2 separate regions of the Homo sapiens genome follow, and region 1 is linked to region 2. Evidence: fine-mapped expression QTL. Tissue or cell type: nasal epithelium. Region 2 holds a variant in brackets; the other region holds the start of a gene. All regions are shown on one strand. Distances are from middle to middle.

Region 1 (2,500 bases), 280 kb before region 2:
GCCGGGAGGGTGTGCAGCGTGACTGCGGCGAGCCCCGACGCCCGAGAAGCGGGGACCTGCTCTCGGGGGGATTCTTTGGAGACAGCCTGGGCGCTGGGGAATCCGGCGGGTGGGGAGGACCCAGCTCGGCCCTTGAGGCGCTCAGGCCTAGTCCAGGCCATACAGGTGTGCAGGACAGGGACCAGCCACAGGCCGCACGCACCTTAATATGCAGTGAATAAAAAAGACCAGACGGACCTGGGGTTGATGACGCCATCTGAACAAAGCGTCCCCGCCCCACATACCGTTCGCCCCTCCTGAGTCCGTCTCGTCGGTGGGAGCAGAGCCAGGGAAAATCACTAAGGACTCTCCCCTCCAAGGCGAGGACTTGCCTGACCCGCTTAGGCAGCGCCAGCCTCCCAGGTGCAGGTGGCTTCGCCCTCCCCTAGCTGGAGTTAGGGTGTGTCCATGCTCTGAGTCCTGGACTCCAGGAGGTACTCACCGTGTCAGCAGAAGGACGCATGAATCTATTTGAGGTCACGTACCAAAGAGCTGCAGCGCCTGGCTCCTTAATGCAGAGGCATTAGGAAGCGAGTTGTCTACTTGCGATGAATGATGAAGGACTCCACTTTACAGAGGAAGAGAGAAAACCTTGCCGCAAATCAGTCACCTTCGGACTCCAACCTAATTGACCAAAGTTAGGTTATTGATGAGGTTATTGATGGGCTGGACACCAGTGAGCTGAGAACGAGCAGTAGTTAATCCCCAGTGTCCACAAAGAGCCTGATGGCCACTGTCCCTCCATGTCCCCTCCCGGCCCAGGAGTCAGCCAGGCACCTGGGCACCGTTCACTGGGTTTTCCTGCAGGGCTGTGTGGGGGTGAGCACAGGGTGGCCCCTCTCCTTCCCGAACCCTTAATTTCTTATTGTTATATGTGTCCTTCTCACAGGGGAAGCTGAACCCAGGATGAGCTTATTCAAAAATATGTTTTTCTATTCCCCTCAAAAGGAATTGGCAGTAAACGTGTTTCTCTTTTTTACTCTCTGGAATTTTATCTGTATCTTGAAATTCCTGCCAAAACCCACAATCTAAGGCGATGCATTATTTAAAAATCAACTGAATTTCAACTAGAAATGGAATGTGAACATTATAAAGCAGAAGCTACTCTTCAGCTCTTTTCCTGGTTCCCCAGAGAAACCAGGCAAGGAGATGATGTGGGGGTTGGTCAGAATCTGGGGGAGACAAAGGGTGGGCTTCCTGGGGCCTGTGCTTCTTGGGGCCAGTTAGCTGGGTGACCTCAGGAGACACCCGACGGTGTCTCAATTCTCTCACTGCTGAAAGAGGCGGGTGGGACCTATGGATTGTCCGTATCCCTTCCAGCTTGGATCTGTCATTCCACGGCTAGGTGCTGAGAGCCTACAGGTCCCACTTGGCAGCCTTCCGAGTTACCTGCTTGGGGAAGGTTTCATGATGCATGGTTTGCATCCTGTCCCCTGAGTAAAGGGTCTTCTCGTGAATCCCTCAGATCTTCTCGTACCCTTCTCCAACTGTCAACATACAGATCAATGTGAAAAAAGACACTGATTTATTTCTGTTTTACTTATTTATTTTTTGGAAATGGGGCTTTGAGCTGTGGCCCAGGTTGGAATGCAGTGGCACCATCATAGCTCACTGTAACCTCAAACTTCTGGCCTCAAGGGATCCCCCACCTCAGCCTCGAAAAACTCTGGGATTACAAGCATGAACCAGTGCACCAGGCCCTGATTTGTCTCTGAATCATGAAGTTTTGCCAGTTGTCTTGCAGATAGAATGCTTTAGCATGTGTTTGTGTTGTAATCTGAAGCTAATGATTGTAACCTCTTTGGGACACCCTGGTACCCTCCAATGGAAAGGACAACTCCAATGTAAGGAGTGCCCTCCCCTCCCTGCTCCTAAACTTTCTCATAGAACTATTCTGACCCTGGAACAATCCTCACATTTGGCTTCCAGTAAACCTTTCTCAAATTATTTCTGCCTCAATAGCCTTAATTTTGGCTGACAGTATTTAGCAGTTTAACTGCAATAGAGTTAAATTTTATACATTGTGTGTGTGAGAGGGGGAAGTGTGGGGATTTCAAGTCAGCAGACTTGCAGTCTTGGAGTGAGGAAGGCTTTTAAAATTTTGAACCCAAACCCAGATACATTAAAAAAACAATAAAATCAACCACACAAAAATCTTCTGAATGAAAAAAGACCCATAAAATAGTCATGACAAAAAAAAAAAAAAAACACCAAACAAACAAACAAAAGGAAAGGCATCCCAAATCAAGGGACTAATTTATTCTTTAATAAACAAAGAGTGCCTCCAAATCAAACAGAAAAAGATCAACAGAGAAAGAGGTAAAAATATCTATCTATCTATATATATATATATACACTAATGGCCAATAAACATGTTGATATATGCCCCATTTCATTAGAGGGTGCAAAGTTGAACCATGAGCTTTCTCCCATAGCTGTATTGACCAGGTACCTTCATATA
Region 2 (2,761 bases):
GGACTTTGAAAGTGTTCTCCAAATGCAGTAAAAAGATATAGAGAAATCAAGAAAGATACTGAGAATTACAAGAAAAAAATCACTAATACCACAGTCTACTAAGATTTCAGTACAATTTGTTTATAGTAAGTTTTCTAGTTATTTGGAGTTTTCTGAGCTGAAGTACTGTACGTGATGTTTCACTGTGAGAATCAGAAGGTAGTTGTTCACCTCTGAGCTCGCTCAGCAGGATGTATGTGGCTTGCCAGCCTGTGGCATTCTAAAATATTTGAATTCATCACGTCTGCTTCTCTGACAGCGGCCAGACTGATCACCTCTGCCGGGATGCTGGTTCATAAATTCCAGCTACACACATCCTGTGTATTGAGTTAGGTACCAACCAGCCTTTCTGTCTCCTGAATGTAATAGGATCATGGGGATTATAGAGTAAACATTCATGTGAGCCTGGCTCTTGGTATCTATTTGGGATTATCAAGAAGTTTGGTCCATTAGAAAGAAAATAACCCATCCATCATAATTTGATTTAGAAGGATAACTTTATTAATGTGTGGTGTTTTGTCCCACTGGAAATATGAGAAAGAGTTCCTTATATTTGCATTTTAAATTTCTTTCCCATGTTCACCTGCTAAAGTAATAAGTTCAAAATTCAAATGGTAGAAAAGCCACTCAAAGCAGATAGATTTCTAAGAAAAAGGGAGATTTGGAAGATCTGGTGAGTCTGAATTCACTCTTCTTCCTCTAAGAAGTTCAGCACCAAGGTCAGTTCTGGGGGGGGCAGTTGCATACCTCCAAGCTCCTCCTGCCCTCGAAAAGTGAGATGAGAATAATTTGAAGAGTATTTAATAAGGGATGCTGGTGGATGACTGTGATCCAGCCCTAGCTTTTCTCTTCGGGGTTATCGTTAGAAGAGAGCCGTGATTCTGACCGGCTCTTGGGAAGAGCAGGATCCAGATTGCAAGGTGTGGACTCACATCTCTTACTCTTTGCAGTATTTCTGATCACAAGCATAGAGGTGTGGGAGTTCAGGCAGGCTGGTGGGAAAAATGTTAAAGATAGTTATAAGAAATAGACACAAACCTTCTTAGAAGGCTGTGGGGGTTGCATAACTTCAGTAATAGATCTGGCTGAAAGCAGCCTAATCCTCTTACCTTAAGTAAATAGCTTAAAGTAGATACAAATGAATGTAAGGGAGTTTATCTAAATAATTTGTTTACTCATGTGGTCCTAAAACTAACCCTTGATCATTTGTGGGCAGGGTGGCTCTCTCAGGAGGAGGGTGACCAGGTTAATTACACTCTAGTGGTGTTGACTCAAAGCTTTTGTCATTTAATGTGTGCT[G/A]AATAAATGCCAGCAGGGCCAGCGAGTCAGGGCCACAGCTGCTACAACTCTTTCAGTCAGCGGCCTGGCCCCCTAGCCCACTCTTTCACTGAATATCAGTGTCTGAGTACATTATTCATCTGTTGTGCAGCTGGGTCTGCGGGACGGACCCCCACAGAGAGGAAGTGAGGGGACTATTTAAAGATGAACAACTTCTGGGCTGAGATGGCTTTGTAGGACAGAGAGGGGCCTTAGATACTGAACTTGTTTCTGACCATTGTTGTTGTTCTTGCTTTCTTTTTTTTGAGATGGAGTCTTGCTCTGTCACCCAGGCTAGAGTGCAGTGACACAATCTTGGCTCACAGTAACCTCTGCCTCCAGGGTTCAAGCAATTCTCTGCCTCAGCCTCCTGAGTAGCTGGGATTACAGCACCCACCACCAGGCCTGGCTAATTTTTTGTGTTTTTAGTAGAGACATGATTTCACTGTGTTAGCCAGGATGGTCTTGATCTCCTGACCTCGTGATCTGTCTATGTTGGCCTCCCAAAGTGTTGGGATTTCAGGTGTGAGCCACTGTGCCCGGCCTGGACCATTGTTTTCAGGGCAACTTTACCCATAGTGCCAATAAATATTTGCTGAATGAATGATTAAATTGTCTAACGTTGCTCTCCCTCCTTTCTTTTTTGCATACACCAATTCACTTAAACAATATTTTTCTGAAGTCTAATACTACACATACAGAAAACTTCACAAGCATAAACGTTAACTGTAACCTATTATACTGTGAAACACAGCAATGAAACAACCTGTAACTGCTTATCAAATTCAGAAAGAGAACATTTCCAGCGCCGTGAAAGCCCTCCCTTGTGCCTTCTCCCCATTACTGCCCTCTCCACTCTCCTTCCTTACAAGCCACAAACATCCTGACTCTTATGATAACCCCTTCTTGGATTTTCTTAAGTGATACCTGGTAGGTACCATCACTAAACCCGATAGTAGATTTTCGTAAATGGAATTGATGAGTGTTTTATGTGATGCCTGGCTTCTTTGTTCGCCTCATGGGTGTGACACTCGCTTGCATTTTTGCACGTAGCCCCAGTTCTCTAATTTTCTTTGCTGTTTAGTATTCCACGCGTGAATGCAGAACAATTGGCTCGTCTTTTTATTGTTAGTGGAATAGATGCACAACATCTAGATGGTTGACATGGCTTTAGCTCTTGCAATGATGCCTCCCTGACTGTCACTCTGCATGATTCCTTGTCACATCTGCAGGTGCTTCTGTTGGGAGTACACTGAGGCTGGGCTCCCCGGGTCAGGCATGAGGGCATTGAACAAACGCAGATGAACACACATTTATTTAGGGACATATGGGTACTTTTCTTGCTCAGGATCTGCCACTTCGCACTGGCACAGCATGGCCCATAACCCATAAACCCATTACCTCA

Evidence for each region. PIP is the estimated chance that this variant, and not a neighbour inherited with it, causes the effect. A credible set is the group of variants that fine-mapping cannot tell apart.
Region 1: it holds the start of LINC01018, and the variant in region 2 is the best candidate, but not a certain one, in a credible set for the expression of LINC01018 in nasal epithelium (TOPMed, PIP 0.84).

The regions. Positions count from the first base shown.
Region 1 is chr5:6,580,583-6,583,082 of GRCh38, reverse strand. LINC01018 (long intergenic non-protein coding RNA 1018) reads right to left here and starts at 947. Exons shown (of 5, transcript NR_024423.2): 1 at 817-947; 2 at 482-663.
Region 2 is chr5:6,300,895-6,303,655 of GRCh38, reverse strand. No RefSeq gene overlaps it. Among named protein-coding and RNA genes, the nearest start is that of LINC02145, 35 kb to the left of the region's middle. The variant G/A (reference allele first, on the strand shown) is at 1,339.